Linked DNA regions of Homo sapiens: all the other regions are linked to region 3. Evidence: fine-mapped expression QTL. A gene starts in region 3. Each other region holds a variant in brackets. All regions are shown on one strand. Distances are from middle to middle.

The links. PIP is the estimated chance that this variant, and not a neighbour inherited with it, causes the effect. A credible set is the group of variants that fine-mapping cannot tell apart.
Region 1: its variant is the best candidate, but not a certain one, in a credible set for the expression of PGM5 in whole blood (INTERVAL, PIP 0.54).
Region 2: its variant is the best candidate, but not a certain one, in a credible set for the expression of PGM5 in whole blood (INTERVAL, PIP 0.73).

Annotation. Positions count from the first base shown.
Region 1 is chr9:68,517,010-68,521,253 of GRCh38, forward strand. The region is part of intron 10 of PGM5 (phosphoglucomutase 5); the gene reads left to right. Among named protein-coding and RNA genes, the nearest start is that of TMEM252, 22 kb to the right of the region's middle. The variant CTT/C (reference allele first, on the strand shown) is at 2,074.
Region 2 is chr9:68,569,527-68,573,770 of GRCh38, forward strand. The region is part of intron 2 of TMEM252-DT (TMEM252 divergent transcript); the gene reads left to right. Among named protein-coding and RNA genes, the nearest start is that of LINC01506, 25 kb to the left of the region's middle. The variant A/T (reference allele first, on the strand shown) is at 2,126.
Region 3 is chr9:68,354,012-68,358,255 of GRCh38, forward strand. PGM5 (phosphoglucomutase 5) reads left to right here and starts at 2,600. Exons shown (of 11, transcript NM_021965.4): 1 at 2,600-3,377. The coding sequence starts at 3,117. PGM5-AS1 (PGM5 antisense RNA 1) reads right to left here and starts at 3,855. Exons shown (of 3, transcript NR_121192.1): 1 at 3,712-3,855; 2 at 2,279-2,335; 3 at 1,153-1,594.

The DNA of each region.
Region 1 (4,244 bases), 160 kb after region 3:
TACAGGCATGCACCACCACGCCCGGCTAATTTTTTGTCTTTTTTTTTTTTTTTAAATAGAGACGGGGTTTCTCCATATTGGTCAGACTGGCCTCAAATTCCCGACTTCAGGTGATCTGCCCGCCTCGGCCTACCAAAATGCTGGGATTACAGGCCTGAGCCACTGCGCCTAGCCTAGTTCTGTGTTGTAGTCATGAGCAGTTGAGTCCATGCTGAGAGTTTGCATCTCAGGGCATAGGCATAATAGGGGACGGGGAGGACTGCAGTACCTTTACTCCCCAAATGGTTGCTGGGCTCTTACGCAAATCTGCCAGCCCTCCGCAGTAGTCTTCAAGGCCCTCATAATACAAAAATCTCTATTTCAGAAAAAGAGAAAATTTAAATTAGAATGCCCCAGATTCCTGGATATGTAACTATCCAGGTAAAATTTATACTTATTAATATTAAAATTATTTCACTGCCTCTAGTGTACTATTGCTTGTTCAGTGGTAGCAAATTCAGTCACCCACCAACACAGGCAGTAAGTCCTAGATTGGGGCCAATTTAAGACAATAGAGCATGGTGGGCACTCTGGTGATGCTCAGCTGTCTTTAATTATTGCATTGTTAATATGTGAGCTCAAGGTTGCCAGGTTTTCTGATTTTAAAAGGAGCAAGATATCTGGACTTTCAAATGAAATTTGATTTTTAAATATTGGCAGGAAAATGATTACAAAACAACACAAATCCCATATGAAGGACTTCTAACTTTTAGTAGTGGTGGACTAGGTGATTCAAACTAACCTTCCCTCTGTAAAGAGCTGAAAGAAATATATTAAAGCATCTTATTAAAAGCATGGTTGACCAATGACCTAATAAAACAGTAACAAGAACAGGAAAAGGGTTGGCACTCAGGAAAATGAGCCAAAGCTCTTTCTGTCCTAGGGAATTTGTCCATCTAGGAGAGGTACTAAAGAAGAGGTGCTTTTGATGACTGGCACAGGGTAAAGGTGACCGGCATCAGGTCCAGGTGGAGGAGGATCTGGTCTATTACAGTCTGCCTCTGCTAACCAGGAGACTAACCAAAGAGGCAGCAAAGAGGCAGACCTGTGTGGCATTTTCGTGTGGCCAAAAGAAATATGGTTAGTTAAGTACACATCAAAGGCAGAGATCCTGGCTTAACAATCCCTGCTCTAGGGTGTAAACTTGAAGAAGACCATTCCAAAGGTGGTATACAGACTGTACTCCAGAGGATTATAAATCCATGGCTCTGATCTTCTGGCTCCCTGAGGAGTCTCATGAAAGGAAATGAAGGAAACTAACAATATTCTAGGTCTCCAGTTATTTCTATAAGCAATTTTTCAAACAAAATGGGCACCAAACAATAAAAGATTATAAAGCACTTGGATACACAAAGCAACACATACCAGAATCAACAGAAACAACATACCACAGAAAAAGATCTATAGATACTGGAATTTATTCAATACACACTGTAAAATAGTTATTTTCACTATGTTCATGGAAATAAAGCACTGAATGTAAAAACATCAGCAAATAACTGAAAACTATAAAAATACACCAAGATGTTGAAATTAAAGAGCTGAGAAAGATAACCAAAATTAAGAACATAAATGGATTTAACAGCAGCTGAAGAATATCAGTGAACTTAAAATATTTCAGAAGAAACTATGCATCTGATTTTTCAGTTTAGTCCTTATGATTTGCAGAACAAAGAATATAAGATTGCTGCCTTTGGAAGATGAAAGATCATATTCGGAAAAATACAGAATAGAGGGTAAGAGACACAAAGGATACAGTGAGAAGTGCTAACATAATTTAGTTGGAGTCTCAAAAGAGGAGACAGAAACTTGGGTATAGGCAACACTGGAAAAAATGATAGGTGAAGATTTCCCAGAACCAATGAAGGAGGTCAGCCCACTGATTCTAGAAAGCCAAGCAGGATATATAAAAATAAATTCACATCTAGACACATCAGGCTAAAATTGCAGAAAATCAAAGGCAAAGAATAGTTTGATTGACAACTAATTTTTCTTTATCAACACTAAAAATAAGGAGACTGATGGCTTAGAACT[CTT/C]AATCTAGTGAAACTTTCCTTCTAAAATGAAAGCGAAATAAACACATCTTCAGATAAACAAAAGCTGAGAGAGTATCTACACAAAAAGAAATTCTCAAGGATATTCTTCAGGAAGAAGGAAAATTATCCCAGATAGATATTTGGAATAAAATGCAGCAAGGAATAAAAGAAATGTTAAAAATAGGAGTTGGTATAAATGAACATTGGCTGTATAAAATATTAATAATTGCTGAAATATGTATATTAATTAATATGGAGAATTAAATTATACAACCACAGTAACTAAACACCATGAGCATAATTGTAGTTAAGGTAAGATCCTTGAATATATTGGAAGAAAATAAAGGTATAGATAAATACTAGACTTTGATAGGTCAAGGATTCATGTTGTAGTTTCTAGGTAACGATTAAAAAAAATAGAAGGAAATTACATAACTTCTTAAGAGAGGAAAACATAGGAACTTTAAAAAATTGAGAAAGAAAAACAGCTAGGTCAATTTCATCCATGTATACATATGTAACTAACCTGCACAATGTGCACATGTACCCTAAAACTTAAAGTATAATAAAAAAAAATTAAAAAAAAAAAGAAAAACAGCTAGGTCAAGTAAAAAGCACATAAGGTGGTGGATTTAAACTTGAATTTACTGGTTATTACTTTAAATATAAGTGAACTAACTGCTGTAGGAAAAAGACAATGTAATGGTGATTCATACCTGTAATCCCAGCACTTTCAGAGGCCAAGGTGGTAGGATTGCTTAAGCCTGGGAGTTTGAGACCAGCCTGGGCAACATAAGGAGACCTTGTCTTTACAATAAATAAATAAATAAATAAATAAATAAATAAATAAATAAAATTAGCCAGGTGTGATGGTGTGCACTTGTAGTCCTAGCTAATTGGGAGGCTGAGGTGAGAGGATTGCTCAAGCCTGGGAAATTGATGATGCAGTCAGCCATGATCATACCACTGCGCTCCAGCTTGAGTGACAGAGTGAGACCCTGTCTCAAAAAAAAAAAAAAGACAACTATAAGCTCGTTATAAAAAATACATCTTTTATACATAAAAATACAGAAAATTTGAAAGTTAAAAGACGGAAAAAGATATACAAATGATAACCTAAAACTAGCTCTATTATTTCAGATAAAATAGACTTTAAGGTCAAAAGCATTGCTAAAGATAAAGAGAGACTCTTCAAACTGATAAAAGAGTTAAATCCCCCAGGAAGACACAGTAGTTTTAAATTTATAAAGAAAAAAAAAAGAGGGAGAGAGAGATGAAAATGTAAGAAGAAAATAAATCCACAGTTGCCCTTGAGTATTTTAGCACCCCTCTCAGTAATTATTAGAATAAGTATACAATTAGTAAAGAACATAGAATATTTAAACAACTTAGTTAACACACCTGACTTAATAGGCACATATAGATATTACACCACGCAACATCAACTCAACGTGTAAATTCTTTTCATGCCACAGGGGACACGTATAAAAATTACCTATATGCTGAGGAATGAAAGAATACAGAGTATTATAAGGGCAACTGAATTCGAAAATGAAAACAAAATTGACACAAAAAAAGCTTTTGATAAAATGTATCATCTCTTCATGATAAAAATTCTGTGAATAGGAATCAAAGGGAAGTCCTTTAATATCATAAAACGGTATTGCTAAAGAAAAAACCTGGACGTAGGCTATATGTGCTGACAGTATGCTAACAAGGGAGAACGACTTGATGGGTTCATTTAGAACTCAAATAGGCTTTGTCTTCAGAAGGACAAGCATCAGTTTTACATATAATTAGAGTATGTTAAATTGTTTGCATTTCCCTGTGATTGTTATATTTAATAATCCTTAAAAAGGTAATTTTCAAATAGTGTGCCTAGAAACAGGGAAACTTTTGGCATTAAGACAAATATATTTATAAACTTTCAGAAAATGAAAACTTTTCCCTCAGTATAAGGGCAGTCTAGATAGTGAGATACAGCCTAGCTTTGAGGTTAAAAATCACAGTACTGAGTAGGTTCAGAGCTCAGCTTTGCCACTTGATTGCCATGTGACTGCACAAGTTATGTAATGAGTCCAAGCCTCAGTTTCCTCATCTGTAAAATGAGAATAATACCACCTACCTCATAGACTGTTTAGAGATTAATTCAATACATGAATTTGGAAT
Region 2 (4,244 bases), 220 kb after region 3:
TTCCCCACCCGACCCCCAATAACTAGGACATTGCTTTTTAGGCAATGGGAACCCAACAAATGTCATCTGAATGGCTTAAAATCAGTAGGTGTTGCAGAATGAAACCCCACAATTTCACCTTTGCCCTAGATACTACACTACACATCATTACAAATAGGCCAGGGCTCTCCAACAATTGCCATGGAAACTGTGTAGAATTCCTGTTCGCTGTCTCATGCCATCTGTTTGACTAAAGGTATAACAAGGAAAATAATAATCTGTAATTTCTCATAGCAAAGTTCCCCAAATTCACAAAGACAAGAGTATTTTTTTAACCATCTGCTTTCCCTTCAGGCTTTTCAGCAACTTCTGTGTAGCTAATACATAAAATTGTGTAACATTTATGAGGGCTGGTTCACCATATATGGTTTCTAGCTCTGAAAACTCAGTTATGTGGAAGCTAGAATTAAACAACATCAAAAACCAAAAACAAACAAAAAAAAACCATGATAACTCAAATGGAATCTGCATGATGAGTTACAGGACTGACAGTGGAAACAAAAGTTAAAAGTAGTCTCTTATTTCTGTCTGGGTACCAAAGGCAAAGCTTGCTGCTTTTCAGTTTGGCCCTGATTGTGTCTCTGTCAAATGCCTTGGGCAAATAGATTTAAAATTTGCCCACGAACAAAGTTAGCTTAATAATGGCTTCCATGCAGAGCTGTCAGAAGATAAAAGAGCTCTATAAAGGATTCTGAGGAATAAAACTTTATGGAACTTAGTGCCATATATGACAATTCCTTTGAGGAAATACATCAAAGGTAGAGATGAAGTGTTTGAGCTGGAAGGCACTTCATTCAGTTCAGTGGTTTTGAATCCGTGCTCCATGGAGCCCCTGGGTTTCCTCCAATTTCCCTCTGCAGCTGCCAGAGGTAAGAAGTTAGTAGAGTGAATGTCTGGAGTCACCAGCCCAACTTCCACTGAGCACCCTTGTGTGTATTTGATTTTCTTTTGAATATTCTCATAAAATTTATTTTAACAAAGGACTCTGTATTAGTCTCTTCTCATGTTGCTGATAAAGACATACCTGAGATTGGGTAATTTATAAAGAAAAAGAGGTTTAATGGACTCACAGTTCCATGTGGCTGGGGAGGCCTCACAGTCATGGTGGAAGGCGAAGAGGAGAAAAGTCACGTCTTACATGGTGGCAGGCAAGAGAGAGAATGAAAGCCAAGCGAAAGGGGAAACCTTTTATAAAATCATCAGATCTTGTGAGACTTATTCACTATCACAAGAACAGTATGAAGGAAACTGTCCCCATGATTCAGTTATCTCCCACCGGGTCCTTCCCACAACATGTGGGAATTAATGGGAGCTACAATTCAAGATGAGATTTGGGTGGGGACACAGAGCCAAACCGTATCAGACTTCGTGGCTTAACAATACTTTGATAAGATTCTGAGCTAATCCAACTCCCTCATTTTGTAGACGAAGAGATTCAGTGATTTGCTAAGGCCTCAGAGATACTCAGAGATGTGGCTGGGACTAGACAGGTGGTCTGGCTTCCCAATCTGCTATTCTCTCAGTGGTCTTTAGGCTGGAAATAAATTGCTACTGCACACCTGCAACTCAGGGACACAGTGCTGAACAATTTCTTCAAGAGACAGAATTCTGAACTTCTTCCCAGTCCTTGGAACATCATTCTCCTGTCTCTTAACTTCTTGCTTCTCTGATTATATTTTTATCTAGCCAATTGGATTTTCTGCCTAGCATGACTTTTCCAACAACAACCTGTTTGCTCCCCAGGTAGATAACTGATAAATGTTTATATCCTAAAAATCTCCAGTGCAATATGTCCTTGGAGGGAAAACACCCTCTGAGGCATATCAGTAAGGTACTGGATCTTGATGTCCCCAAGAAATGGTACTACGAAAGTTGCCCACTTCAAAGAAGATGTGATTTTTATTTATAGAGTGGAAAAATCATGAATGGGTCTCTTTGACAAAAGTTAAATAACGAGAATTATTGTATTATTAGTAATAACTTTTCATCAAGGTCCCCCGGAGAAAATAGTAATAATAGTAACAACAATAATAAAGGTGAAAAGTCCATGTTGCCTTTGTTAAATAGAAGCATCTCTGATCACAGC[A/T]TTGGAACTGGAACTGGAAAGGACCATGCAGACCAGTTCTCCTTCAAAAGAATTCATAATTTCCAGTAGGAACCATTGTCATCATCCTCAATACTGCTACCATTTCTTGAGCACTTGCTATGGACCAGCCAACTGTGTTAAGTAAGCTCTTTACAAGCACTGTCATTTAATCTCTGTAACCATTCCAAGCGTTATTATTCTCCCCTTTCTACAGATATGAAAACTGAGGTTCAGAAAGTTTAAATCAGGGTCATGGCCTTGTACAACTACAGGGAACATTATTTACTTTGTTTTCTATGTAAATGGAACCTTCTGGAGCACAATGCAGCAGCCTTGGTTTAAGTGACTCCCAATTTCCCAGAACTGGTAAATGACAAATTCAGGAATCACCTCCAGGCCTGTCTGAAGCCAAAAGCCCCGTTCTGATCACTACACAAGCCCCTGCTTCAGAAATCCATATGTGTGCTCGCACTCTGGAGTCTTATATTGATGATGATGAGTTAAGAAGAAATTCAGTTGGCTGTTGTATTAGTCCGTTCTCATGCTGCTATAAAGACATACCTAAGACTGGATACTTAAAAAAAAAAAAGCGGTTTAATCAGCTAATAGGTTCTGCGGGCTGTACAGGCTTCTGCTTCTGCGGAAGCCTCAGGAAACTTACAATCATGTCAGAAGGTAAAGAGGAAGCAAGCACATCTTCACATGGCCAGCAGAAGAGAGAGAGAGAGAGAAGTGGGGGGGCCAGTGCTACACACTTTCAAACAACCAGATATGCTGAGAACTCTATCACAAGAGCAGCAGTGGGGAAGTCCGCCCCCATGATTCAATCACTTCCCTCCAGGCCCCTCCTCCAACACTGGGAATTACAATTTGACATGAGACTTGGGTGGGGACGCAAAGCCAAACCATGTTAGCTGTTAAGTGGTGAGCATGACTTGAACTCAAGACAAATGCCCAAGAAGACTTTATTCGAACTGGTTTTCTATTTGTTTAGACACCAAGTGTTAGCTTCATAAGGTATAATTTTTTTAAACTGTATTTTGAAATAATTTCAAACTTAGAGAAAATTCACACCAATAGTAAGGAGCTCCCAAATACCTGTTACCCAAATCCACCAATTATTAACATTTTGCTGCCTTTGCTTTCTCTCTCTCTTTCTCTCTTTCTGTGGTGTGTGTGTGTCTGTGTGTGCATGCATATGTGTGTGTGTGTGTGTGTGTGTGTGTGTGTTTGCGTATTTGGGAATTACATCCTGAATATATACATATATACACATACGGAATTTTTAGTGATCCTTGAGGTGTGCTCCCTATGAACCAGCATTGCCTTGGTACTTGTTAGAAATGCAGATTACTCAGTCCCACCTCAGATGCACTGAATCAGAAACTTTAGGGGGTGGCATCCAGCAATCTGTGTTTTAACAGTCCTCCAGGCGATTCTGAAGCTCACCTATTTGAGAACCATTGTCCTATTAAAGAATACTTCGGAGAAGATTGTTCTGAGCAATAGGACAATACTATTATTTTAATATTTAATATTTTACATTAATGCCATTTTCTCATAAAAGGAGAGAAGTTGGGAAAAGCTGGGAAGTGTACCTTAGTTTTTCTGGGGGGTTGAGCATGACATAAAAGAATCATTCTTAGATTTTTCACCATGCCTGAACTAATTCATATAAAGAGACTCTATAGGCTAAGCTAAGTTTTAGGACTTAGTGTTCTAATTAAAGATTTAAATATGACTTTCCAAATTATTGCCTGGAATGGATTCATTTCTGTGAGCCTAATCCCTTTGCAAGTGTCTAAAGCTTGCTCTCACATTCACACAAAAAACTTACAGAAATACAAATACAGTCATTATAGAGAAGCTTACTGATTATGTAAACAGTCATGTCCACCAAAATTGTTTAATATAATTTTCAGAGGGTGAGAGCCTGAATATATCCTTTCTAGAAAGCTGCTTAACAAGGTTGTCAAACATTGAGGTAACTGACAAAATCATCAACCACGTAAAATTTCATTAGTCTTTACAATTACAAAATCAAATTTCTCCCTTTAAATAAATGCTTTGGGGTTTTATAACATGCAAAGTGAAGACTCCCAGCTTCAAAGTGTGCCTG
Region 3 (4,244 bases):
TTCCTTTATGAGTGATACAAAGTCCTATATAAATTCAGAGAAAAGACAAATGGTTTTAGAAATCCTTGATCAGTGAGTGTGAAGCACGTGGTGGCCCGGTTACTGTTTGGTTGCCCATCTGTCCTCCCTCTGGGGATCAGCACCCCCTTACTTTGGAAGACTTGTTTTCCTTGTCACTGTAAGGTTCTTTCTGGCTATGTGGTAGGGCACATTGCCTCAAACTAGCCCTGTTCCAGTCTTTGAGAACCTTGAAATTGGAACCAAGGGAAGAGGATTGCCTCTTGAATGGTAATTCTCTAAAATCTAGTCTGAGGTGCTGGTGCCTAATCCCTGGGTCTGTGGAAGGAGCTGGGCTGTGAGAGGGGAGAATGATGTTGATGTCAAGAGAGAGGCAGGTGCTAGGAGCAGAGAGATGGAGGCCTGGAGGGTTTCTGGGCTTCTCTGAGGCTTAGGGTTTGGATCATTGTCTTCGTTACTGGAACAAAGGATTTACCATACCTGCTCTTCTGGGAATGAAACTGTCCTGCTTTGCAAAAAAAAGTGTCATTAGAAAGAGATCTTAAAAACCCCACACCATAGACAGGTGCACAGATCCCTAGAAGTGTTAAAGTTCTGTCTGTTGGATGCTAAGCCAAGACTCTTAAGTATGTTCTAAAGAGAAACTGGTGTGTGTAGGCTGTGCACTCCCAGGGAGATAAAAAGTTAGGAACTTTATGGGTTGGGCTTGGTGGCTCACACCTGTAATCCCAGCACTGTGGGAGGCTAAAGTGGGCAGATTGATTGAGCTGAGGAGTTCGAGACCAGCCTAGGCAACATGGTGAAACCCCATGTCTACAAAAACTACAAAAATTAGCTGGGCGTGGTGGCATGTACCTGTAGGCAGGAGGATCGCTTGAGCCCAAGAGGGAGAGGGTGCAGTGAGCCATGATTGTGCCACTGCACTCCACCTGGGTGACAGGAACTTTATGGGAAATGGGATCTTGGAGACTGAGTAGAGACTAGAGGAAAAAAAAAAACTACCTCCCCGACTGGCCACACTATTCTTTTAAAAAAATGTTAATTGACAAATTAAAATTGTATGTATTTACGGAGGTATGATGTGATGTTATGATATATGTATACATTGTGGAATAATTAAATCCAGAGAATTAATAGATTCATCACCTCAAAACCTATCTTTTTTGTGGTGAGAACATTTGAAATTTATTGTCTTAGCAATTTTGAAATACACAATACTTCATTGTTAACTACAGTCACCATGCTGTGCTGTAGATCTCAACAAAATATATTCCTCCTGTCTCAACTAAAACATTGTACTCTTTGACAACATTTCCCCATTCCTCTCACCCCCTCCAAAAACACCCATTCTTTATGTTGAAGAGAATGGCTAAAAAGTCCCAGCAGGTTTCAACAGACGGCTTCAGTGGTTGTCCCATCACACTTCAATGTTATTAATAAAAAGGGGAGGGGCAATACATAATTCGGACAGGCTGAAAGTACCATTGTAACCACTTTCTTGACTTCACAGAAAAAGTCCTCTTGTTTTCATCTGTAAAATGGGAACTGCATGAATACCATTCTTCTTTTCTTCAGCCTCCAAAGAAAAAACAGATGCAAAGCCTTTAATCAATTGCAAAACAGTATACAATGTGTGTTATTACTCACAGTTGTCTTACTGTGACCAAACACTTTATAAGCCTGCGGCAAGTCAGCCTTACTCTCAGTAAGTGGACAATATTTGGGGAAGGAGAAGCAGCAGGATATTTCAGGACAGTAGCCTTGGTGGGTCCAAAAATTCCTTGAGAGAAATGGGAGATAGAACTTTCTTCCTGCTTTGGGTTTTATCCTGTTAGTCTTTTCTCTCTTCACTCCTATTTTCTATGGAGAATTTCCTGGTTTTGGAGTTTGGGTGCGTTTTATGGAGAGGAGGCAGAAAATCTTTAGCTCCAGCAGAATGAAAGGATACATGCAAAGGAACCTAGCACAGTATCTGGTACCCAGGTCTCCTTTAACTTGGCTTTATTCATTCACTCCTGGTAGGGCATTAATAAGGGATTTAGCCCCCTCCTATTGAAAACGATTAATTCAAGGAAGAGTTCAGACAGTGTGGACAGATACAGTGTAGGAAAGCCTATTTCTAAGGCAGGAGCTGGGTAGGGAGGGTGAGAAGGGCGAGAAGAATAGGGAAATATGTGTCGTCTGTGTTGCTGCTGTTGCAACCACCACAACAAACAAACAAGTGAAAAAAAAAAAAAAAAAAAAAAAGAATTGTCCATACCGGAAAGTGTGCTGTTTTGGAGGAGGCTGGGGAAAGTGTGGATGGCTCGAGTGGGTCCTGTTGGATTGAAGTCTGACAGTGGTGATTCCCTTCAACAAATGGTCGGGGTGGGAGGGTACACACACACACACACACACACACACACACCCCACACGCAGCGCCCAGCCTCCGATTTCAGCGCTGGCAGGAGATAACCATTCTTAGCTCGCCTTTCCAGGGTTATTTTTGGCTGAGGCTGTTCGCTGATGGCAAAAGGTTTCAGCCCCCTCCCAAATCCCTCCCCGTCCTTGTTCTAAAGAGAAACTGGTGTGTGTAGGCTGCGCACTCCCAGGGAGACAGGGAGACGGGCCGGGCGCCGGAGAGGAACCCGGACTCTGCCCAAAGTCTCGCCGCCCGCCGGCTGTTTTCTGGCGGAGGGTGTGCCCCGGAGGGCGGCGATCGCGGGTGAAGGCTGGGGCCAGGCGCGGGTGGAGGCGTCACCGGGGTCGGGCTAGCAGGCCCTGGAATCAGGCTTTTGGGACACCCCGAAAGTGAGTCCAACTTGGGGAGAAACTGAGGGCAGCTCGGGCGGTCTGGCAGCGGAGAAGGTGGGTGGGAGAAAACTTTACAGGAAGGCAGAAGCAATCTCTGCCGAGAGAGTCAGCCGAGCGGCCGCGCGGAGAGGAGGGGCGGGCGGTCCCCAGGCGGGCGGGTGCAGGGCGCAGGGCGCCGACCTGCTGGAGAGGGGGCCCGGGCGCGAGGCGGAGTCCCGGCGCGCAGCCAGGCTGGTGGAGGCCCCCGGCAGGCTGCAGATTCCCTCCGGCTCCGGGAGCCGCAGCAGGACCGGCCAGGAGGCGCCATGGAGGGGAGCCCCATCCCGGTGCTGACAGTGCCCACCGCGCCCTACGAGGACCAGCGGCCGGCCGGCGGCGGGGGTCTGCGGCGACCCACCGGCCTCTTCGAGGGCCAGCGCAACTACCTGCCCAACTTTATCCAGAGCGTGCTGTCGTCCATCGACCTGCGCGACCGTCAGGGCTGCACCATGGTGGTGGGCAGCGACGGCAGGTACTTTAGCAGGACGGCCATCGAGATCGTGGTGCAGATGGCCGCGGCCAACGGGGTGAGTGTCCGGATGCCCCTCGCTTCCCGCCGCGCCGCCGCCATGCCCTCTCCTAGCCCTTGTCCCCCTGCTGCCTCCGGGCCCAGTTGGGAGGCCCCTGCCCGGCCCCGGCTTTGCTACCTCACTCCCGCGTCCTCACCCTCCAGCGCCCCACTCCCGCCGCGCTCGCAGCCTCCCCGGTGCACCCCGGACACTGGGTTCTATTAGTACCCACCGCCCCCAAAAGCCTTGAGGGGTTTCCGTCGTTCCTGGAGCCACTCCGGGCGCCCTGGACTCTTCTCCGACTCTGCGCACATCCCGCACCTGCTCATTTTTCTTTCGGACATTCTCTTACCCGGCCCTGTAGATTCCAAGGCAGCTCCCAGTTTTCCATATTGTTCCCAACGCATTCACTGCCCACAGTCCCCACACAAACTTCTTTCGCAGGCTCACAACATAGTCCCTCTGCCCCGTGCCCTTTTTGCAATAATCTGCCAGTCCCCTAAGTCTTAGCTCTGCCTATTTAACAGTAGTGGTGTCTCAGAACACACACACACACACACACACACACACACACACACACACACACACACACACGATCCCTGACATATTTGGCAAGAGTAGGCCCTGAAGGTTTTTATTATTTTGGTTCTTTAACCCAGTGGAATTACTGAATGATTTATTTAATTAGGGTAGGGATGGAGTGGATCCATTTGTTTGATGCTAAACAGCCTGAGCTCGCAGTTCCCAGGGGGCATATCTCTAAATGGTCTGAAATGAGATTTGCAGTGGTTTTCTTAATGCAATTCCCAACTTCTCTCCAAATGCCTTTTGGCATTTGACAACATTTCATGCCTCTTCCCCTTTCGGTTTTCATCCTTGTTTTCT